7 linked regions of the Homo sapiens genome follow. The protein of the gene in region 6 purifies or fractionates together with the protein of the main gene of each other region. This does not show direct contact. Each region holds a gene or a part of one and is shown on either strand. Other genes may lie near its edges.

Region 1 (3,500 bases), on a different chromosome or scaffold from region 6:
GGGAAGAGGCTAAGGAACAAAGAAGGATACCCAAGAGCTTCCCAGAACACTCAGTGCCAGCAGCAAGGCCAGGCTGAGGTAATGTCCCCACTCCTCCACTAGGATGAGTCTCGAGCCTGGGTACACAAAGCACACACACGCCCTGGACAGAACACCTGTCCCACATGGCCCTTCACAAAGCTCCTACTTGTGGAAAAGATGTCCACAGGGCAGTTTCCGCGCAGCCTGCATGGAGTCCCAACAGATGGCACAGTCGTCATTGTTGACAGCCAGCTCCTCTGGAGTTGCAACTGCAAACCTGTGGAAACAAAACAAGCCCAGCAGGAACCTCAGTCAGTTCCACACGCACACTAAACACCACTTGATAGACTGCGCCTGTATCACAACACAGTTACAGAGAAAGCATGTTCAGCAAAACATTCTTGATAATCAAAAATATAATTTACCTTCAAAGCCCTTTCAAAAGTGAGTAACTTATGCACAGGAACTTTGTCTAAATAATGGTTGCTAGGCCGAGCGCGGTGGCTTATACCTGTAATCCCAGCACTTTCGGAGGCCGAGGTAGGGGGATCATGAGGTCAGGAGTTCAAGACCAGCCTAACCAACATGGTGAAACCCCGTCTCTACTAAAAATGCAAAAATTAGCCGGGCGTGGTGACAGGCGCCTGCAATCCCAGCTACTCAGGAGGCTGAGGCAGGAGACTTACTTCAACCTGGGAGGCGGAGGTTGCAGTGAGCTGAGATTGTGCCACTGCACTCCAGCCTGGGTGAGTGAGACTCCATCTCCAAAATAATAATAATAATAATAATAATGGCTGCTGTTAGTGAAGACCTCGGAGACCATATCCGGACAAATCAGAGGAGTAAGGCCCCCAGAGATCCAATCTGTGTCCCTGGCCACAAAGAAGAGATCCAAGCTGTCCCCCTGGGTGCAAAGAGGATACCCATTAATCTTGCACCTCCAGGCGTGGCTTAGCCCCAGCTTGGCAAAAAAGTGCCTCCTTCAATGAGGTTAAGTATGTGTGTGTAAACATGCATGTGCAAAGAACTGAGACCCACTTTCAGGAAATGAACAGGGTAGAAGCCCAATGAAGTGTCTATTTGATAATAATGACAATAAAATCATGACAAATAAGAGCCTAATACTGAGCACTATCTGCCCAGTACCATTCTAAGTACATGAATTATCTCACCAAATTCTCCCAATAGTTCAGGCAGAAGGTTCTGTTTTCATCCCTAATTTAGAGGTGAAGTAAATTGCCCCAAATCACACAGCACCTAAGTGGGGATTCACACCCGGGCAGTCTGACTCCAGAGCCTTTCCTCTCCACCACTCTATTAGCAGTTTACAAACATACATTCTGACATACTCTGGGATCTGCTGTTATTAAAAAACTAAAATGAGTAAACTTAGGCAACATCAACTTGTGCTTCCTTACCTGGCCTCCATGTTTCCAACCACACGTAGATAGTTCTTGTGCCGACGAATTCGACGTTGCACCTCATGAAACAGGTAACGCAGCTGCATAAAGATGACCAGGCTGGCCATGGATAACCAGATGTTGCCAAATAACTTAGAGAGAAAGAGAATAAAACACACGGTAAAAGCGAACGTGAACTTGCTAGTGATGAAGGCGCAGTATGCAGCGGAAGCTCTTCACTGTTGGTGATGGTGAACTGCAATGTCTTTCAGAAAGGAAATACACAGATTTATCTCATTACTCTAAACAATGCACATCCTCGTCAGCCTAGGTGCTCCAATGCCAGTCATCTTTCCTGAGAAACTCATCAGAAATGGAAAAGCTTTATGCAAAAAGATGTCTATCCATGCAATTATAAAACAGAAAATATGAAAATGAACAAAATGCCCAGAAGAACAGTTAGGTTGTAAACTCATGTAATGTAAAATTATATAGTCATTAATTTCACTTATTATACTATATAACTACATATTACTATTATATTTGTATATATAACAGTTCTGAAGGTCAATTATGGGAAGATAGTACTAGATAAATGAAAAAAGCAAGATATAACTATCTTTATCAAACTAATACATGATAAAAAATATGTAAAATGTGAAATAGCAAACAACCAAATATAATCTAAATAACCCATTGTGGGATGCGGTTTATTAAATCATGGTACAGCTATCTGATGATATTTTTATCCTGAAAGTATTAAAATGGCTTAGAAGAACTGATGTTAGCACAGGAAAATGTTCATAATACATTAGTTTTTAAAGAACAGAACTATATGTCTAAAATATGATCTCAATTTATGAATGTATGTACTCAAATACATAAAAAGAATCAGTTAAATACAAAATACATAAAAATACAAAATACATAAATACAAAAAATACATAAAAAGAAGCAGTTAAATACAAAAAATACAAGCATGAGGAAAAAAAATTTAAAAAAAGAAGATAAAAAATCTTAACAGTTATCTTTGGCCATTTGTTTGTCCCCTTTTTGAGGGGGGAGGGAGGCTTTTTTTTTTTTTTTGGGACGGAGTGTCACCCTGTCGCCCAGGATAGAGTACAGTGGCGCGATCTCAGCTCACTGCAACCTCCATTTCCCAGGTTCAAGCAATTCTCTGCCTCAGCCTCCCCAGTAGCTGGGATTACAGGCATGAGCCACCGCGTCCAGCCGAGGCTCTTTTTTAAAAAAAAGAATTACATACTTTCTTTAAAAAGTATGTTTTCAAAGTTTCTTTCAAAAAGTAGACTTAGAAATGTGCCACGTCTAGCCCAATAATTTTAAAATGCTACTTGCTAGGCTTATAATTTAAATAAATTGCCCACCAACTATTTTAATTCTCACCATTATTAGATCACTGAAGGGCCAACCAATGAAGCAGATCTACGACACCGTAACGTCTAACATACCAAAGTAAAATGTAAACAATGATGGTAGTAGGAATGTAGGAATTAAGTGTAAAGACTTTTTTTAATTACAAAGATGGAAAATGTATAAATCTGTGAAGTAGCTAACACTGCAGGAATTCCCATTACCACCTACAAAGTACCTGCTAAATATTTAAAGCCATAGAAACTATGGGGAAAGGCAGCTCCTTAATTTCATGCTAAAAGAATAATCTATTGACTTGGTCAGCAGAGTTAACTAAGTCTCCCAGGACAGCAAACACCTCCTGAGTTAGGCACCAGCCAAAGCAGTTCCATGGCACTGCCTTACACCCAGTGGCAAAAAGAGGGAGGGTTTGCAGCCACATTCATTTTTAGTCTTTAAGTAGTCCATCCACATCTTATTTCTAAAGTTTCATTTTTTAATGAAGAAACCATTACTGTTCCTGATTCTGAAAGGCTTGCCCTCTGTTAGAGCTCCTTCTGAGGAAACTTACCAACATGTGAATATGGTGCATGAGGTCCAGGGACAGGAGAGTGAGCTCCATGACAAAGTCTGTGTAATAGACATACGTCCCCTTTCCTTCCCACGTCCCTTCGTGGTTGAGGTCCCAGAGGTGAATTACGTATCTGT
Region 2 (3,500 bases), on a different chromosome or scaffold from region 6:
CAGCCGCACACTGGGGCCCGAGGTCGGGGGCAGCATTGGGCTCATGTTCTACCTGGCTAACGTCTGTGGCTGTGCCGTCTCCCTCCTGGGGCTGGTGGAGTCTGTGCTTGATGTCTTCGGGGCCGGTCTGTGCTCTGTCCGATCTGGGCAGTGCTGCGGGTTTACAGGGTCTGGGAGTGTGGGATCATGAGGGAGAAGGTCCTCTCCAGCAGAGGGGCAGACTGAGCCATTACCTTGGCTTTCTGGAGCTTCTGCTGTGTGGCCAGCATCGTGCAGGAGATATGGACATCCCTGAGATTGTCCTTGCCTGCAGGGAGCTAACCATCTAATCGGAGAGACCAGGCTAAGATTCTTAAAACTGACAGAGACCACCAGGGAGAGCTAAGATGCTAGGATGGAGCTAAGAGGGAAGTGGGGAAGGTGGACTCTCTGATAGCAGGTGGGCAGAGGAGGGCTTGTCTTGCTTTGGGTCACAGTTGGGGCTGGGTCCCTTCTTATTTATTTATTTATTTTGAGATGGAGTCTTGCTTTGTTGCCCAGGCTGGAGTACAGTGGTGTGATCTCCGCTCACTGCAACCTTTGCCTCCCGGGTTCAAGCAATTCTCCTGCCTTAGCCTCTTGAGTAGCTGGGATTACAGGCACTCACCACCACGCCTGGCTAATGTTTGTATTTTTAGTAGAGACGGGGTTTCACCATGTTGGCCAGGCTGGTCTTGAACTCCTGACCTCAAGTGATCCACCTGCCTCAGCTTCCCAAAGTGTTGGGATTACAGGCGTGAGCCCCGGCGCCCTGCCCCTTCTTCTTTTTTTTTTTTTTCTTGAGAGAAGGTCTCACTCTGTCACCAAGGCTGGAGTGCAGTGGTACCATCTCGGCTCAATGCAACTTCTGCCTCCCGGGCTCATGCGATTCTCCCACCTCAGCCTCCCAGTAGCTGGACTACAGGCATGCCTCCCCACACCTGGCTAATTTTGCAGTTTTTGTGGAGCTGGGGTTTCACAATGTTGCCCAGGTTAGTTTTAAACTCCTGGACTCAAGCAATCCTCCCACCTCGGCCTCCCAAAGTGCTGGAATTATAGATGTGAGCCGCCCACCATGCCCGGCTGGTGGGGTGCCTTAGGATCGGGCCTTCTAACTCTGTCCCTACCTCTCTCCAGATGCCACAGGGCCCAGTGGGCTCCGGGTCCTGCCCCAGGGCTACGGCTGGAACCTGCTGTATGGCTCCCTGCTGCTGGGCCTTGTGGGTGGGGTCTGCACCCTGGGAGCCGGCCTCTATGCCCGGGCCTCATTCCTCACATTCCTGCTGGTCTCTGGCTCCCTGGCCTCTGTGCTCATCAGTTTTGTGGCTGTGGGGCCGAGGGACATCCGCTTGACTCCTAGGCCTGGCCCCAATGGCTCCTCCCTGCCGCCCCGGTTTGGCCACTTCACCGGCTTCAACAGCAGTACCCTGAAGGACAACTTGGGCGGTGAGCTGGGTGCTGCCGTGGCAGGGATCTCGGGGTGAGGGGTGGGCAGACGTCGGGCCGGGCCCGTAAAACCTCTGGATGAGCACAGGTGTCAGAGGGAATGGAGGGCAGGAGGTCTGGACTGCAGAGCAGTGCAATTTAATTCAAGCCTGTCTAGCGTGTGCTTGGCCGGCAGGGCAGGAGGAAGCCCACAAAACAGTCCCTGCTTTAGAGGAACTTGTGTTCTAGCTGAGGAGAGACATGCATTCAGGAATCAGTTAAATAGCACAGAATGGCCCAGCATGACTTAAACAGATCAGGATCACCCAGGAGTGGAGAGAAGGGAGGCCTGACTATGGGCTGGGGAGGGCAGGAGCCGGGGAGCTGGAGGTGGCCTGAGATAGACAGGTGGGGGATTCAGCCAGGAGCTGGGAGCAGAGAGGGAAGGCATCTCAGGAAAGAGCTTGAGACCAGGTGCGGTGGCTCACGCCTGTAATCCCAGCATTCTGGGAGGCCGAGGCAGGAGGATCACCTGAGGTCAGGAGTTTGAGACCAGTCTGGCCAACATGGTGAAACCCTCTCCCCGTCTCTACTAAAAACACGAAAATTAGCTGGGCACGCTGGCTTGCACCTGTAGTGCCAGACACTCGGGAAGCTGAGGGAGAACTGATTGAACCCGGGAGGAGGAGCCGAGATTGTGCCATTCAGTGAGCCGAGATTGCACCATTGCACTCCAGCCTGGGAGACAGTGAGGTTCCCTCTCCAAAAAACAAACAAACAAAAAAAACACCATAAAATAAAAATACAAAAATTAGCCAGGGGTGGTGGTGCGCACCTGTAGTCCCAGCTACTCAGGAGGCTGAGGCATGAGAATCTCTTGAACCCGGGAGGCAGAGGCTGCAGTGAGCTAAGATCGCCACCACTGCCCTCCAGCCTGGGCTTCAGAACGAGACTCCGTCTCAAAAAAATAAATAGGCTGGGTGCGGTGGCTCCCGCCTGTAATCCCAGGACTTTCGGAGGTCGAGGCGGGTGGATCACCTGAGTCCAGGAGTTCGAGATCAGCCTGGCCAACATGGTGAAACCCCATCTCTACTAAAAATACAAAAATTAGCCAGGCGTGGTGGCGGGCACCTGTAATCCCAGCTACCTGAGAGGCTGAGACAGGGGAATTGCTTGAACCTGGGAGGCAGAAGTTGCAGTGAGCCGAGATCGCACCACTGCACTCTCGCCTGGGTGACACAGCGAGACTCCATCTCAAAATAAATAAATAAATAAAATTAAAAAGTTAGATGGGCATGGTGGTGCACACCTGTAGTCCCAGCTACTTGGCAGACTGAGGCAGGAGGATCGCTCTAGCCCAGGAGGTAGAGGTTGCAGTGAGCTACGATGGTGCCACTGCACTCCAGCCTGGATGACAGAGCCAGACCCTGTCTCTAAAAAATAAATAAATAAATAAAAGAGCGTGGATTAGGGTCTGGAGGGAGGAATATCGGAGCACTGGGGGGACGTGGCAATGTGTCTGGCTGACCCAGGGCCAGTGCAGGAACAGGCTGGGGTCTTAGTGAGGGCAGTGCAGGGGAGGCAAGAGGACCGTGGGAATGTGTGGAGAGGGTGGCTAAGAGGCCTGGATCCCTGAGACGGATGCTGATGCACTCTCCTCCCTGGGAGGATCCTCCTAGCTGGCTATGCTGAGGACTACACCACGGGAGCCGTGATGAATTTTGCCAGCGTCTTTGCTGTCCTCTTTAACGGCTGTACAGGCATCATGGCTGGGGCCAACATGTCAGGTGAGAGTCCCTGCCTGCTGCCTCCTGGGGGTTTGGGGCTGCCACCGTGAGGGACCCAGGGGGATGGCTGGAGGGCTGACCTCACTCCCTCTGCTCCCCCTCTCCAGGGGAGCTGAAGGACCCCAGCCGGGCGATCCCTCTGGGCACGATCGTCGCCGTCGCCTACACCTTCTTCGTCTATGTCCTGCTTTTCTTTCTCTCCAGCTTCACTTGTGACAGGTGTCTGGGGAGGGATGGGGGTGGAGTGTCGAACAAGATTGGTGCACCTGG
Region 3 (3,500 bases), on a different chromosome or scaffold from region 6:
GTGAGGTAAGGTGACTTGGTTGTTGGCAGTCACATGCCAGTGTCAATTTTCTTCTCATTGATGTCTATAAACTGTCAATATTCATGAATCCAAATTTCAGTATGTACCCAACCAAATGGTAAATGAAATTTACTGTAGAATTGTTGCTTCTCTGCAGCTAGTACAAACTGTTTTGGAGATTCTGTGTTGGCACAGAGCAGAGAGGAAAAGAACTTTAGGGAAAATAGTGTGAGTCTTAAAGAGGGCACATAAATGGCCTTAAAATGAATAAAACATTAAGATGAATTCGTTAACTAAAATAATAAAGATGTTGCCAGCCATATGGAAAAATATGTTATTCTTTGAAAAATTGACATTTTAATTACGTTTTTTTAAATGTCCGATTCATATAATGATCAGAAGTTAACTAAGAATACTCTATTTCGAAAGTTTTATGGAGCACGCAAAGTGTCACTTTCTAGTTTGGAAAGAAAGGGATTTTGTTGTTGCTAGTTTAGGAATATGCTGGGTTTAATTATTACAGGATAATTAAAGAACTAAAGCTAAGAATGTATGTGTGGTTTTTGTTTTTTTTTTTTTAACCTTTTACTAACTCTTAATGGATATGTAACATTTGCATTAGGATCTTGGATAGAGTTACTTAATAGTGGATCAGACAACTTTCCAGATAGGGAATCAAAGTGAGACTCGCTGTTTTGAGACAAACTAGTTCAGACTGTATATAAAATCATTTGTTTTATATAAAGATGCATTTCAGGTTCTTTAGTGGTAATAAAATAGTTACAGTATAATATGTTTTCAGGCAAAAAGTCTGTCAGAATGGTCTTTAGCTGCTTCATTGCCCACAGGTTAATTGGTATAAAAACTTCCTTGACACCACTTTTAAATATATTTACATACACACGTGTGTATGTGTATGTGTGTGTGTATGTGGGTATATTTGTGTATATACATGTTTGTACATACATTATGTGTGTGTGTATATACGCTTTGTCTTATCTGTAATGGCCAGTGTTTGAAGAAGAAAGAAACTAGACCCTATAGATTAAAATCTTTGAGGATTTTTCAAAGCTTTCCATGGGGGAGCATTTCTTACACCCCACGTAAGGAAATATTGGTCTGGGTATTTCATGGACTATTGTGTTCACTCGTTAGCTGAAATGATCAGCTATCCTAAGACTAAATACTAGCCTAATCATTAGCTTTTTTAATTTCTTAAATTCCTGAGATTGGGATTTCATGTACTAGTAGAATTGTATTTTACAGGCCCAGAGCAATGGCTCACGCCTGTAATCCCAGCACTTTGGGAGGTCGAGGCAGGTGGACCACGAGGTCAGGAGTTCAAGACCAGCCTGGCCAACGTAGTGAAACCTCGTCTTAACTAGAAATACAAAAATGAGCCAGGCATGGCGGCTCACGCCTGTAATCCCAGCTACTCTGGAGGCTGAGGCAGGAGAATCGCTTGAACGCGGGAGGCTGAGGTTGTAGTGAGCTGAGATCACACCATTGCACTCCAGCCCAGGTGACACAGTGCAAGACTCGGTCTCAAAAATAAAAACTGTATTTTACGCAGTGACAATTCGGTAATATAGTCCATGATTTAATGAAACAGTAGTGTGGGATTGGATTTTTGATATTTGTTTTGTTTTAAAATTCTAGAAGGAGTTAGCTTTTGCAGCCCGTTCTGATGAATTTATTGTCTTTACTGCAGGAATGTATTTTGTAATTTTTTTAGATATTACAAAGTATGAGGAAAGCTTACAAGTCTACAGAAGTGCTGTGTGTTCTCATCAGTAGATTTTAGTTGTTAAAATTAATTACTTTGAACTGAGATTGCACCACTGCACTCCAGCCTGGGTGACAGAATGAGACTCCATCTCAAAAAATAAATAATAAATAAAATAAAATTAATTACTTTGAATAGGTAATATTGCCACAGTTTAAAATTCAGAAGTCCCCTTCGTACATCAGCCTCCAGCTACTAAATTCTTCTACCTGGAATCTAATAACTGTTATTAGTTTCTCATTTATTACCTTTTAATAAAAGATGAATTTGGGTTCTGGAAATAATCTTGACATGGGAGTTTTTGAAAATAGATGTATTTTTTTTCTAGTTATTGGAAAAGTCACAGGACTGTTTTGAAGTGCTGAAAATCTAATTGTGATATTTATAGTTCAAGAAATTTAATGAATGCATTAATAGATTTTGCTATTCATTTCTACTCTGAGCTAATCTTGTAGAATAAAAACCTAGTCTCTCTAATCCCATATTTGTGGGATAAAAATCTTATCTATGACACACATATATATGTACCCACATATATATACATATATATGTATATATGTACACACGTGTGTATATATATACATGTACACACGTGTGTACATATATACATATATATGTATATATATGTACACACGTGTGTATATATATACATATATATGTGTATATATGTACACACGTGTGTATATATATACATAAATATATATATCTCCCCACCGGCAATATTTTATGTAATATTATACGTACTGAATGATTTCAATTTTTAAAAACCCTGCAATTCCATAAATACGTGTATATATATACATATATATGTGTGTATATATACGTGTATATATATACACGTGTGTGTGTATACGTGTATATATATACACGTGTGTGTATACGTGTATATATATACACGTGTGTGTATACGTGTATATATATACACGTGTGTGTATACGTGTATATATATACACGTGTGTGTATACGTGTATATATATACACGTGTGTGTATACGTGTATATATATACACGTGTGTGTATACGTGTGTGTATACGTGTGTATATACGTACGTGTGTGTATACGTGTGTATATACGTACGTGTGTGTATACGTGTGTATATACGTGTGTATACGTGTGTATATACGTATATATGTGTGTATACGTGTGTATATATACGTGTATATACTTTTTTCTCGACACTGTACTGATGAGGAATGAGCTGTATATTTATAATATGCAGCAGCCAGGAGACACTCCTTGCTGTTCTAGTCAGGAATGCTAGTTATACTTTCTGTGGCATTGTTCTAGCATGTGATATTTTAACTTCATGGATCCTGTGCAGTCTTAATAGAGGAGTTCTGCACAAGAAACATGATTTTTCCTGTTTTAGGAAGTAAGTACTGTGGGGTACTACTCTGTCATCTGGTGGCTAACCCTTCCAAATGTATCCCATGAGAGGAGACAGTGCCACTCAACCTTTTGGAGGCAGGAAGTATGGGAGCTGTAAAAAGAGCCTATTTTCTTAAAGCTTGGAACTTACTTGAGGGATAGAAACAGAGTAGTGTTGCTATTAGTGTTAAAGTTGTGCTGATGAGGCCTAAGAGCTCTGCTGATAAGGCCTAAGAGCTCTTATCCTGCTTTTCTCCCTTTACTGGAAATTCTGACAAACCCAAGAGAAGGCCAACCAGCTTGGAGACCTACTAGGTAAGGCAGGAACCACAAGTAGTTCCTGATC
Region 4 (3,500 bases), on a different chromosome or scaffold from region 6:
CAAAGGATCCAGCGGATGACCAGAAGGATCCAAATGATGAGATAGCCTATCCTTGAAGGTGCTGATGGCACCTCCTGGAGGTGCTTTTTTGACACTCTTGCCCCAGGCAAGTATTCCCCTTGCACTTTGTATTTCTCTCCCACACTTAGGTATCCTTCTTGTCACAGTCTTCTCTGTCCAGGGCTGGACTGTCTTACTCTTCTTTCATGTCCAATATCTGGAACATTCATTCACTGAGTACTTCTTCCCACCCTGCTGATCCCCAGCCTGATTTCCTGGGTGGTCAGCGTTGGGTTTGAGATGTCGTCTGAAGTTGTAAGCAGAAATAATGTAGCTGCTGAAGGAATAATGCCTGGGGGTGGAGATCTGGTGAGCTTTTAGTGAGCATTAGGCAATGGAAGGTTCTAAAAGGCCAGCAGAATTCTTTGAAAAGTTCATTTAAAGCCCTTTGTCCCAAGGCTGTAGGCTGCAGAGTTCTTCCAGGTCCACCTCCTCCACTTTGTGACATTTCAGCTTGCGAGGAATTAAATTGTCGTTAAAACACATTTCAGTTCTAGGCATGAGTTCAAGGTAGCCTGGCGTTCCTCTCGCCCCTGGCCATGAGAACTTTGAAAGGGCTTTGGCAGCACTGGTTGGCCTGGCATGAGGAGCTCATAGCTTGAGGCTCATGCCCCACCTGTCCATAATGTTCTTATTTTCCCATCATGAGCATGGACTTGGGTTTGTTACATGTCCGATACCATTATGGTCAGTACTATGCAGATGACGAAGCAGCCCTGTCCCCCGTCTGACTCCCATGGCTGCTTCAAGGGCAGTGTGGTTATTTGCTGGGCAGTGGCATGGGGCTTGTGCATTTCTACTGTCACTACAGAGGGTTTAAAAAAAAGACATGGGCAGGTTAAGTGGAAGGGAACAGTCTCACACCACTACCTTTATTGCTTCTTGGTACTTGGGTTTTCAGGAAATTCCTATCAGCAGACATCAAAAACAGAGAATGAAGGGACGCAGTTGGCATGTGCCTGTGGTCCCAGCTACTTGGGAGGCTGAGGTGGGAGCATCGCTTGAGCCCAGGAGGTGAAGGCTGCAGTGAGTATGATCACGCCACTGCACTCCAGCCTGGGTAACAGCGCAACCCTGTGTGTAAAAATAATAATTTTTTAAAAAGATTAAAACCAAAAAAAAATTGTAAACAGAGTTCAACGTAACTTACAGATTAAAAACAGTAAAATATGACAGAAACTGAGAGGTAGTCATGATCAGATATGGCCTCCTTCGGGTGCCGACATCTGAACTGAGACCTGAATGATGAAAAGGGCCAACACTGCAAAAATTCAGGGAAGGAACATTTGGAACAGAGAGAACAGTCAAGTACAGAGGCTCCCGGATGTTCAGGGACAGTAAGCAATGAGAGAATGAGAAGACCAGAAAACTAGGGAGGGGCCAGATCATGTAGGGCCTTAGAAAGCCATGGTAAGGGTGTGGTAAGAAGTTTGGGTTTTATTCCAATAGCAATGGGGAGTCACAGGAGGGTTTCTGGTGGGTACAGCAATCTGCTTTGCACTTTAAAAGGCTTGCTCTGGCTGGAGGTGGAGAGGATGAATTATAGAGGGTAGGTATAATCACAGATATAACCTCAGTGAGGCGGCTGGAGCGAGTCCAGACCAGACCACGGAGGAGCAGGTGAAGCCAATGGATTTGGGATATGTTTTGGAGGCAGTGTAAGCAACGCTTGCTGAGGACCTGGATGTGGTGGTGAGAATCACCCCATCTCGAGCAACATTAACTGAGGAAAAAATTGAAAAAGGGGCGCCCTTGCTTGGGGGCTTCCTATTGTGGAACTGTTATGGAAAGGAGCCCCATCCATTGCTTCCTCCTTGAATGGCAAATGCCTTTATGATCCCTATAACTTGTCCCATTATGTTTAGACCCTTGGTGGTCAGAAGGGTTCTATTTAGGGCAGTGTCCCCTGCCCCTCCTTGTCCTCCAAAAATTTTGGGAGGCACTGACGTGGATGTCATGGGGTCAGCACAGGCATCAACATCCCCAGAGGGATGGAACCAAGCAGCCTATTGCCCAGGCATTCACTAACAGGCAGCCCATCCTCAGCCTCATAGCTGGCCGGGGAGAAGAAAGGCTATTTTGGGTCCCAGATCTTTTTTTTTTTTTTTGAGACAGAGTCTCGCTCTGTCACCCAGGCTGAAGTGCAATGGTGCGGTCTCAGCTCACTACAACCTCCGCCTCCCGAGTTCAAGAGATTCTCCTGCCTCAGCCTCCTGAGTAGCTGGGACTACAGGTGCGTACCACCAAGCCTGGCTAATTTTTGTGCTTTTAGTAGGGACGTGGTTTCACCATGTTGCCCAGGTTGGTCTCAAACTCCTGGGCTCATGCAGTCCGCCTACCTCAGCCTCCCAAAGTGCTGGGATTACAGGCATGAGCCACTGCACCCGGTCTCTGTTTACAAATTTATCACCAGCTTCATCCCCTAAGGTTATAAGCTCCATGAGGGTGGGAAGTCTGTATTGTTCACCTCTGTATCCTAAGCATCTAGAACATAGCCCGGCACACAGTAGGTGCTGAAGAACTTGAATCTGTTAATGTAGAAAGGATGTTTCATCTAGCTGAAGTGTCTTGTACAGAATAAACTCTCAATAAATGAACTGTGGACACATGGAAGGGTGAGCTAGAGCTCTGCTCAGGGGTTGAGTGCTCCTCTTGTGCCCTTGTGGTTGTCTGGTTACCTGAACTAATTGGAGTGCGATGCAGACATAGTCATGGAGTGAGACAGCAGAACTTTGCTGTCTTGTTTGTGAGCCCACATCAGGGGTTCTAGACTGGCTGGTTGACATGGTGGCCCCAGCCTGTCTCTTCAGCAGCTCGGCTTATAAAAAATAACCACCACCTACTGGGGAAAACTGCTGGAACCTTCAGATTGCCAAATTGTTCTTGGTGTCTTTTCCAGAAATATTTGCCAAACTCGAATTAGCCTTCAGGAGATTTGATAAAGCTCATGTTTAAGTCAAGAGACCAAAAGATTTTGATGGGGAGAATTAGGGGCTGGATATAGAGGGAATACTTAACCTGTATAGGGGCAGATATGGTTGTCCATGGAGATTCTGGTGTGAAAAAGTACGATGGCGGCCGGGCGCACTGCCTCACACCTGTAATCCCAGCACTCTGGGAGGCTGAGGTGGGTGGATCACCTGAGGTTGGGAGTTCAAGACCAGCCTGAACAACATGGAGAAACCCCATCTCTACTAAAAATACAAAATTAGCTGGGCGTGGAGGCACATGCCTGTAATCCTAGCTACTTGGGAGGCTGAGGCAGGAGAATCGCTTGAACCCAGGGAGGCAGAAGTTGTGGTAAGCCAAGATCGTGCCATTGCACTCCAGCCTGGGCAACAAGAGCGAGACTCCGTCTAAAAAATAAACAAAAAAGTACGATGGGAGAAAGGGGAGAGGGCAGTGGGGCCTGGAAACCTCATGACAAAGAGAATGAACAC
Region 5 (3,500 bases), on a different chromosome or scaffold from region 6:
TTTCATTTCCTGTCCCAGTCCCCTGTGTTATTTTCTTTATAACACTTTACATTTTATAATGACTTACTTGTTTACCCCTCCATCTCTCACTCAACTTGAAACTCCCTGAGTCCAGGAAATTTGTGTCTGTTTTACTCACAGAAGAATCCAGCAACCAGCACAGTGACTGGCAAACATTAAGCTTTTAATACTTGTGTGTTGTATAATTAAATGCATGTGCAGGAAGAGTCACAACTTCCACTCCATCTTCACTGCTTTTGTCAAGGACTCCCACGTGCCCAAGCCACCTGTCAGCATTCTGTGCCTGTCTTACTTGATGGCAGAGACAGAGTTAAGGGAGAGGCCAGGTCCAGTTTATTCTCTGTTAACCTCTTCTGTGTTTATCAGCATGTTTGATTCACCACAGTATCTCCAGCACCCAGAACAGCAGACACCTAGTAGATACTGTTGATTGGCTGAACTCCCAGCTCTGAATGACACAGGATGTGAAGGGAAAGGGAGCTGGTGCAGTGATGGAGACATCTAAAGACAGAATCTATCTGGGGCAGAGATTCATATCATTGTTTTCAACTTCTGGAACTGTTTATCATAGGCACGCATCTCCATTTGTATAATGAAAGAGAAGAAAAGCGGTTCCTTACACTTTTTTAATCATATGTTTTATAAATGGAGAATGAACTTCATAGTTTTAGTTGCTAGGCAATAATTTGATATTCTAGAGTCTTTCTCCAAGAAAAAGAAAACTATTTTGCTTATAAGCCAGCTTTTACCTCTGTTGGACACACAATGGTGAATGAAAGCATTTCCATCTTCCAAAAAAGAAATCAAGGGCAATTAAAAATAGTTTACAGAAGGACGGGAGCAGTGGCTCACGCCTGTAATCCCAGTACTTTGGGAGGCCGAGGTGGGAGGATCACGAGGTCAGGAGATCGAGACCATCCTGGCTAACACGGTGAAACCCTGTCTCTACCAAAAATACAAAAAGTTAGCCGGGTGTGGTGGCGGGCACCTGTAGTCCCAGCTACTCGGGAGGCTGAGGCAGGAGAATGGCATGAACCCGGGAGGCGGAGCCTGCAGGGAGCCGAGATCTTGCCACTGCACTCCAGCCTGGGCCAAAGGGCAAGACTCCATCTCAAAAAAAAAACAACAACAACAAAAAAGTTTACACCAGCCAAACAAGCAAAGAAGCTAAGACCCTGACTCTGGCCATTTCATTCCAAATCCTGTTCCGTATCAATCTAGACAGTGCCTGCTCATGAGAAATAATAATAATAATAAAAAAATACATCTACTGCAACTCTACTTTGAGACAAGGATTTGGTTCTTCTGAAGGGCATTTAACTGACTGGTATTACTGAGAAATAAAAAATCCCAAGGCCTGTGACCCTTTGAAACTGTCGAGTGACCTGGCATCCTGTTAAACACTGACCTGCTTTGTAGAAGAAATCCAACCCTGTCTGTGAATTTTAACTAAGTTAAACTTGAGGGTCTCCATGCTCTCTTGTTCTGCAGCACATCTGGCTGGTGCCAAGAGGATTTGCTCAGCTCCATCCTCTGGGGAAGGGATTCATTTTCCTGTTTAGGAAATGTGATGTCGAGCTCCATGAGGCTGATGAGCACGCTGGGTGGGACCACAAACAGGCCCCAGTGAAATCAATTATGTGGGTGTCTTAGGACAAAATTTGGTTCAAAGTGATCAAGGACAGGGTGTGTCATTGCAAGCTGTGAGCCACGGTGACTTCGGCTGTTTGTTCAGCATTTAATATGTTTATCTTTCTGCTAAACACATTGTTGTTGAGTCACCTCTCTTAGAGACCCATTCTGTGTGAGGTCCAGCTCTGCAAGTCCAATATACAAAGACAAGCCTTTCACCTTCAATGACCTTACATTCTACAAAGTTGAAACAAATGCCTTCTCTTACTTCTCACTTTAGTCGGGAAGGTACTCAGGCTCTTAAAAAGGTAAATCATGTATTCTTTATTAGGCCAGGAATCATCAAGCAATAAAAGTAAAGGAAGAACTTAAAATGGTCATTATATTTTCAATATCATTTAGTGTTGTTGCTGCAAATGGAAAATGGAATGTCAGTTTGCCCAAAGGTACCATCAGCCTTCAAACCATCAATATTTCCTGTCAGACTATAATGTTGTCACCAATATTAGGCTAATTTTATTAATCAAACAAACAATTGCATTAAGCTTCTAAGCTTTGGCTAGAGGAGTAAAAATCGCATAACTTTGAAAAGTAGACAAATTCATGAAATGCTGTCTGTTTGACCTTCCACAGAAATTGTCCGAGCCATGACACATGTGATAAACCAAGGCATGGCGATGTACTGGGGCACCTCGAGATGGAGTGCTATGGAGATCATGGTAATTTAACTTCTATTTTTAAATGGCTATTGAGTACCTTATTATTGCTTTTCAGATGCCATGCATAAATTGCAAGATCTTTTGCAAACTTTTCTCACAATCACTATGGCACTGGAATTCTAGAATCAATTCCATCATTACAGAGATGGATATTGGAGCCGGAGCTCATCCGTTCAGAATACAACAGAGAATACAGTGTTCTTTGGTGGCAAGAGGGTAAAGTGAATTTCACAGCTAATGAGATATATTAACAGAGTATTCTAGTTTTCTTATAAAAAACTGTATTAACTATACTGTTTATACCAAGCTAATTACAGATACTTTTATATGTTAGTCTAAGTCTTATTTCTTTAGGAACTTAAAAATAGTTAAACTACATTTTCTTTATCGTAGTGTACAATTCACACCTTGACTAATTTGCTCTGGACTTAACTCAATCCAAACCCTCCCAAAGAATTAATAAGGGTTTCCTACCTTTCATATTGCTCTTAGTGAAATCGGTGGTGACAAATTTGCTTATTATTTGGCATCCTACATGTTTCTTGGTTTGTACTGATTTCACCAAAGTAAACATTTCTCATGCATACAAATTACAGCGAAGCCTTATTTCTCATCAGTATAAATTTGGTTGTAATCTCATTCCTCCCTAGGAAGCCTATTCTGTAGCAAGACAGTTCAATATGATCCCACCGGTCTGTGAACAAGCTGAGTACCATCTTTTCCAGAGAGAGAAAGTGGAGGTCCAGCTGCCAGAGCTCTACCACAAAATAGGTAATCTTCAAAATAAAAGCTACTGAGTATTTTTAACAAGAGAAAGATCACTGATTCGGGGAAAAAATAAAAACAGTGTTATTGAAATGCTTTCCTAAATGTCCCTAATTAACATAGACATTGTAAGAACCATGCATTCCAGAGATTGTAGCAGAATCAAAATGTAGCAGAATCTGCATTTAGTCTACAGGGTATCACTGATGAAAGCCAAGCAGAGTTGTAAATTGTGACTGGTATTTCAGCTGTACTCAGCAGGTGTTCAAAAAAAAAATGCATACTGAATAAAAGGAACAACCAATGAATAAGTTCATTTTTCATTGGTGCTTGCTCGAGTAAACAATGACTACCTTTCAAAAA
Region 6 (3,500 bases):
TCTATGTGGAAATGTCTGAAGTCCGGGACTAAGTGATGGAGTCCCTAGATGATCCAAAGGCATCATTTTGATCTCCAGACCCAAACTCTCTCCCCATTAAACTGGCAACCAGAGCTGCTTTTTAAAAAGAACCAAAGGATGGGTAAAGAATCATTTCCCACCCCCCAGAAGAAGTAGAGTGCAAATGAGCACTGCACAGCCTAAAGGTAGACAGTAGGTTGACCCTGAAATGGCTTCAGGTAGGGGGCTTTTAACTCACCAGACTGGGCGTCTTTGCCTTTTGACGGAGTAGCTTAATTTTCCCAAACAGTGAATTGCAGGGGTCGGGCTATGCAGGGGTGGCTCCAGCCCAGGCCTCACTGCTGCCTAGTTAGCACCTACAGTTGTCTTGGGGCATGGGGCACCAGCTCAGGGTGCTAGGCCCAGGGTGCTCATTAGTGCCTGGTCACCCACATCCCCAGGTATCTGCAGGGCATCCCATGCCCAGCACAAAGCCTCTGTGCTTCTCTTCCTCTCCTTCATGGGAGGTGGTGCTGAATTTCCAAGGCATGGGGTGGGAGGGACACAGATCTTTGGAAAATAGAAGGTAAAGCAACCCATATCTGAGGCCTAGGTCAGGGATAGATATCTTATCACAGTGTCCTTGGCCCAGGACTCTAAAATGTTCACATACAGTCATGCACATTCACCACAAAATAGGTACACTGTTGTCACACACAAACATAAAACATGTAACGTGCAAAATACAGACAGACCAGGTTAACATAAAAGCAAACACAGAAGATATATGGTTATAATTGTATATAAAATGCACACTCTGCACAGATATAGAATTTACACAGAACATACACAAAAGACAAACATACACCACATACAAATATACAACCTGAAACTCAGATGCAAAATACATAAAAAACTACATGGACAAAATGCATATGCATATAAGATACACAAAGGCTACTTTACCATTGTTTCTACACATAAAATACACACAAACTCAGTATATACACACGATGCATTAACTTATAATAGGCATACAAGATACATAGCACACATGCCCAAAAATATCGCACAATACACATGAAATGCAGACATATACTCAGACCCATTGCCCTGCCCCCAGAGCTATGAATTAACAGGCACAAACAAAAGATCAGATGTAATCACCTTTGCCTGGCCTGTGTCTATATCCCCCAGGATCTTTCAAGGAATCTCTTTCTCTATTCTTTTCTCTCACTACCAGATTTCACTCCTGAGAAGTAACTCCTAGGTTTCAAGCAGGAGGATGGGCCACCACATCAAGCAGATATCTGACTAAGACCAGGAATTGCATGGGGTCTCTACCAATTCACCTTCCTCCCACCAGAAACCTGGGTGCAGGGTGTGAAAGTACCTGGGACAGCTGGTAGCCTAATATAGGCCTCCTTGCCATGACCCTTCCTTCCTTCCAGCAAATCCGCACAGACAACCCAATAGCCCAGGCTCCCCTTCTCCCAGCACCTGGGATCTCCAGATTCAGCCCTATTCTCTTAAAAGCAGTAATGGCTCAAGAAACTGCAGGATCTTGAGCCCAGGACCAGGGTAAAGATGTCCCCAACATTCTCTAAGCCCACAGATTTTATTGCCCTTCCATCCTTTGCAGCTTTGTTGGGGGCACGGTCAGGAAGTTGAGACCCTATAGAGACCTGTCTCTTAAAATGAGCCACCTTTACTTGCTTGTGGCATTTCACTTGCTCTTGTGCATAAGCCCAAAGGGGCCAACTCCTGATTCCCCTCTGGGTGTGTTCAATCCCGGGCACGCTCTTCCTTTTCCTCTTGTTGGGCTCCCCTGGATGCCCTGCCTCCCATCCAATTGCTATGCAACCCAGTTCAGCTTAAGTAAAAAGTGATTAAGAACATACATCTAAGGCTAAGCAAGCTAACACTTTTTAGAGGGCCTGACTTTATCCTATATTCTAAGGCCATATTTAAATACTTTCTAAGATTACCCACCATTTTGGATTACTCTTGGAGCTGGTTCTTCCCCTAAGTAGGACTAGCTGAGAGCTGAGTGCATTTTAGCAAAGGCTTCACCTACATCGGAAGTAAAGAGTTGCAGTCAGGCTTTGGATCAGGCCTCACTCCTGATTTCTGCTCCTGCAGCCATCCCGTTGTGTCTCACTCTCCCTTCCAGTGATGGTCGCAGCTCCCAGTCTCTACAGAAAAGGTAACAACAGTAGGGAGTGGACATATGGGTCCAAAACGTGTGCTTTGCTGGAAACTTGTGTTTCCAGGTCAAGGTACCATTCCTGTTGGCTTCATCAAGTGCCTCTGTGGATTCATTTTCAAGAAACTTGGAGTTTTCAGGAGACCGAAAAGGAATAGGCCCAGGAAAGGTGGAGAGATTGTCAGGAAGAGAGAGTGGCTGAGTGGGTCAAATTTCAGAGTAAACTTTTTAGGAGCCAACATTTAATTAAGAAAATAATTAAGGCTCTGTGCTTTCTGAAACTTCAGTAATATTTGACATGCTCTCTTCCTTCTTCTCTGCTTGCCTCTGTCCCTCTCACCTGTGTTTCTGAGGCTAGTGTTGGCATGTCACCATGAGGTTAGCCTTTTAAAAGGGGCCCCACGGGAGTGTGCCTCTAGATTGCGTTAGCCTAGTATGGAAAGGGCTCCCATGGAAGCTATGATGGCCTGAGACCCCAGCCTGGGTGTTCATGTTGCTGCTCCGTGTTGGGAGGGCCCAGGACTAGCTTGTTCTACCTATTCTTCCTGGATCTCTCACTATATTATAGTGAGGACTCTATCAGTATCAACCCATGTGGAGAGAGGACAGCACCCTCTGAAGCTCCTCAGGCTGGGGATTCAGCACTGCCCACAGTAGTAGAGTCACAGAGGCTGACTCCCCCCTAAGGAAACTATAGAACAGTGTGCAAATTGCATATGAAGGTGGCACCACTACCCCTATGTCAGGCAGGGGAGCACAGTGCTTTGACTTGTTTACTCAAGAGAGGGGATGATGGTGCTGAGCTCTGCTCCCCAGAGCTTTCCTGGGGCCCATTGTCATAATAACTTGTATGTGGGTGATGGCCGCCTCATCTGCGAGGGCTATAATATCCATGGTGCTCCTTGGTTGCACAATGGAGGTTCCCCTAGCCTTGGCAAGGTATCCATTGCCGGGTTTGAACTCATGACCTTAACCTCATTAACATCATCAGTCACCTGAGCCAACGCGCAGAGAGGGGGATGCTGGGAGCTCTCTCAGTAGCTATTGTGACCATCATCTATATCTTCAGACTTAGCCCTTGTTGAGTCCAACCCTGTTCCCCTATCAAAGCAACCAGCAGGGACAGATGGAGGTAGGGGCTCCCCTACATGCAGGAAGGTTCTCTTCCTCAAACTAACCTAGTTTACTTTTCCTTTTTTTCTGCTTCCCTTCCCACCAAATCTCAGCTTCATCTCTCATAGTTTGTGTTTGAATATTTTTAAAGAGGAAAAGTGCAATAAAATAAATAGTGACT
Region 7 (2,740 bases), on a different chromosome or scaffold from region 6:
ACCTTACGTGTTCCCATAAGGTCTATTTAGGCCTTTATGCATGCCTGCCTCCCCAGTTACGTTGAGAACATCTTGAGTGAGGTTTAGGACCATGTCTTACTTGACTGTCTATCTCCAGCATCTAGCACTCTGGCCTGTTTAAGTGAAAACACTTTACCCCCTAAGTTAAATTCAGGATGACAGGATACAGGATCAGGGTCTTACTTGGAGTTCAAGTTTATTTATCTATTTATTTTTAAAGATGGAGTCTCACTGTATTGTCCAGGCTGAACTCCTGGGCAATAGCGATTCTCTCACCTCATCCTCCCGAGTACCTGGGCTTACAGGTGTGTGCCCCTGTAGCTCAAGTTGATGTTTTTTAAAATAAAAAAGTATATGGTAGTTTTCACATGTTTCTCACCACCTAAGTCTGATTTTAAGTTAAGTTTTTCTTTTCAGTAGCTATCGTGGTAACATTGGGTTAAAGGTGAGAAAGTCTACTTTTATTTGGAGAGATGGCTATATTAATAGGAGGTATCAAAACTGAATTCTATTGGTGTTTAAGGAGCTAGCCCTGTAATGTTTAATTCCCATCTCAAATTTGAGTTAATGTGCTTAGTAGTTTTAGAATGGCAGATTACTGTTTCTGCAAATGAAGATATTTTCTTTCTAAATATTTTGTGGTAATTAGCAAGCAGGAAATAAAACTAAAGATGACTGGTAAATATTGACCCAGGTGTCCAGGAACACCAGTATCTCTAACCCTTGTTTGTTCATTGTGGTTCACACTGTCCTGATTTTTCGGTTTCTGGTGCTGCCCTGCAGTGTGAATCAGCATTATCACCCAAATTGAGCACTGCTTAATCTATGTTTTCATCTTTTCGAAACCCAGGTAAGAACCTTGATGCTGTCCATGATATCACTGTGGCGTATCCTCACAACATTCCTCAATCAGAGAAGCACCTCCTCCAAGGAGACTTTCCCAGGGAAATCCACTTTCACGTCCACCGGTATCCAATAGACACCCTCCCCACATCCAAGGAGGACCTTCAACTCTGGTGCCACAAACGGTGGGAAGAGAAAGAAGAGAGGCTGCGTTCCTTCTATCAAGGGGAGAAGAATTTTTATTTTACCGGACAGAGTGTCATTCCACCTTGCAAGTCTGAACTCAGGGTCCTTGTGGTCAAATTGCTCTCTATACTGTATTGGACCCTGTTCAGCCCTGCAATGTGCCTACTCATATATTTGTACAGTCTTGTTAAGTGGTATTTTATAATCACCATTGTAATCTTTGTGCTGCAAGAGAGAATATTTGGTGGACTGGAGATCATAGAACTTGCATGTTACCGACTTTTACACAAACAGCCACATTTAAATTCAAAGAAAAATGAGTAAGATTATAAGGTTTGCCATGTGAAAACCTAGAGCATATTTTGGAAATGTTCTAAACCTTTCTAAGCTCAGATGCATTTTTGCATGACTATGTCGAATATTTCTTACTGCCATCATTATTTGTTAAAGATATTTTGCACTTAATTTTGTGGGAAAAATATTGCTACAATTTTTTTTAATCTCTGAATGTAATTTCGATACTGTGTACATAGCAGGGAGTGATCGGGGTGAAATAACTTGGGCCAGAATATTATTAAACAATCATCAGGCTTTTAGCGACAAGGAACACACACATTTTTCTTAAAGGCCCAATCCTAACAGACTCCCCGTACCAGAGGCAGATCTGGAACTCGTCAACAACAGCCCGGATCACATGCTGTTACTGGACTGCCCAGGTCACCTCATTGAGGTGAGCGCTGTCCCTCCAGGTACTCAGGCAGGTGGTGCCCAGGCTCCCTCCCTTGGCGTCCTTCTTCCTGCGCCAAACCCATCTCATCCTTAAGATCAGAAAATGGAACCCCCTTTGTCGTGAAACCGATCAAGCATTTTGACAGGAAGCCCTTCATTATTCATAACATTGTATGCTGACCAAGACGTCAGAAGACCACCTGTGCCCTTTTCTCTCGTGGAAGATAAAACCTGGACTCAGGGAGCAACCACAGGCTCTCCACTTTGAAACTTTAGTTTGAATTTTAAAAGATAGGAAGTAATACAGTTTAAGTTCCTTTCTCACACTCAGTATTGCATGCTTAGTGCTGGTTTTCTTACAACATTTTGGCAGGTGTAGCTTTTTCTGTTAAAAATGGTATACATGAAGTCACATACTTTTTTAAAGGAACACTCAGAACATTCTGTCATTCCAGTCAGAAACTGTCTTTTGAAATATTTCTTTACAACCTACCAAAAAAGGAAGGTTGTTTTTTCTACATGTGCTTGGGTATCTAACATCTACCATTAAAACAACAAATGGCTTGCAGACAGGGCAGTAATGGTTTATCCTAAATTACTCAACCCCTTGTAGCCTTGACAAATTTTACCTTAAAACCAAAATGAAACACAAAAATTAATCCTTAATAATGATAGCAAGTGATCTTTCTTTTTAGTTTTAGCCTTCCTTTTTCAATAGTAATATTTAAACCCACTTTTGACCAATTGTTTGCCCAAATATTCTTGTCATTTGGAGTCAGTGGAAAATCCAGCACACCAAGCACCAGTCTTCTTCTGAGGCAAAAGAAAAGTGTTGTCATTTTCACTCTGTTGGAGCTGCACACTTTTTTTTCTTTTTTTTTTTCTTTTTTTTTTTGTCGTGTAAGAAGGATGCTGGTCAGAGCTGCAGAAAATATGAGGCAATTAAAAGTCTTTAGCTGTT

What was found.
Region 1: the proteins of KCNA2 (region 6) and AMFR purify together in Homo sapiens (co-immunoprecipitation; 2 studies listed by BioGRID and IntAct, with this or other methods). This does not show direct contact.
Region 2: the proteins of KCNA2 (region 6) and SLC12A9 purify together in Homo sapiens (co-immunoprecipitation; 2 studies listed by BioGRID and IntAct, with this or other methods). This does not show direct contact.
Region 3: the proteins of KCNA2 (region 6) and FBXO11 purify together in Homo sapiens (co-immunoprecipitation; 2 studies listed by BioGRID and IntAct, with this or other methods). This does not show direct contact.
Region 4: the proteins of KCNA2 (region 6) and FADS1 purify together in Homo sapiens (co-immunoprecipitation; 2 studies listed by BioGRID and IntAct, with this or other methods). This does not show direct contact.
Region 5: the proteins of KCNA2 (region 6) and KCNAB1 purify together in Homo sapiens (affinity purification with western blotting; 2 studies listed by BioGRID and IntAct, with this or other methods). This does not show direct contact.
Region 7: the proteins of KCNA2 (region 6) and LCLAT1 purify together in Homo sapiens (co-immunoprecipitation; 2 studies listed by BioGRID and IntAct, with this or other methods). This does not show direct contact.

Annotation. Positions count from the first base shown.
Region 1 is NC_000016.10:56,401,546-56,405,045, forward strand, and holds part of AMFR (E3 ubiquitin-protein ligase AMFR), read right to left. Parts: intron 3,497-3,500; coding exon 3,364-3,496; intron 1,574-3,363; coding exon 1,440-1,573; intron 299-1,439; coding exon 188-298; intron 1-187. UniProt on the Homo sapiens protein: E3 ubiquitin-protein ligase that mediates the polyubiquitination of lysine and cysteine residues on target proteins, such as CD3D, CYP3A4, CFTR, INSIG1, SOAT2/ACAT2 and APOB for proteasomal degradation.
Region 2 is NC_000007.14:100,855,713-100,859,212, forward strand, and holds part of SLC12A9 (solute carrier family 12 member 9), read left to right. Parts: coding exon 1-125; intron 126-1,155; coding exon 1,156-1,464; intron 1,465-3,122; coding exon 3,123-3,230; intron 3,231-3,337; coding exon 3,338-3,449; intron 3,450-3,500. UniProt on the Homo sapiens protein: May be an inhibitor of SLC12A1. Seems to correspond to a subunit of a multimeric transport system and thus, additional subunits may be required for its function. May play a role in lysosomal ion flux and osmoregulation.
Region 3 is NC_000002.12:47,899,999-47,903,498, reverse strand, and holds part of FBXO11 (F-box only protein 11), read left to right. Parts: intron 1-3,500. UniProt on the Homo sapiens protein: Substrate recognition component of a SCF (SKP1-CUL1-F-box protein) E3 ubiquitin-protein ligase complex which mediates the ubiquitination and subsequent proteasomal degradation of target proteins, such as DTL/CDT2, BCL6, SNAI1 and PRDM1/BLIMP1.
Region 4 is NC_000011.10:61,807,004-61,810,503, reverse strand, and holds part of FADS1 (acyl-CoA (8-3)-desaturase), read left to right. Parts: intron 1-3,500.
Region 5 is NC_000003.12:156,512,078-156,515,577, forward strand, and holds part of KCNAB1 (voltage-gated potassium channel subunit beta-1), read left to right. Parts: intron 1-2,286; coding exon 2,287-2,372; intron 2,373-3,022; coding exon 3,023-3,143; intron 3,144-3,500. UniProt on the Homo sapiens protein: Regulatory subunit of the voltage-gated potassium (Kv) Shaker channels composed of pore-forming and potassium-conducting alpha subunits and of regulatory beta subunits.
Region 6 is NC_000001.11:110,597,783-110,601,282, reverse strand, and holds part of KCNA2 (potassium voltage-gated channel subfamily A member 2), read left to right. Parts: 3' UTR 1-3,500. UniProt on the Homo sapiens protein: Voltage-gated potassium channel that mediates transmembrane potassium transport in excitable membranes, primarily in the brain and the central nervous system, but also in the cardiovascular system.
Region 7 is NC_000002.12:30,639,246-30,641,985, forward strand, and holds part of LCLAT1 (lysocardiolipin acyltransferase 1), read left to right. Parts: intron 1-871; coding exon 872-1,374; 3' UTR 1,375-2,740. UniProt on the Homo sapiens protein: Exhibits acyl-CoA:lysocardiolipin acyltransferase (ALCAT) activity; catalyzes the reacylation of lyso-cardiolipin to cardiolipin (CL), a key step in CL remodeling.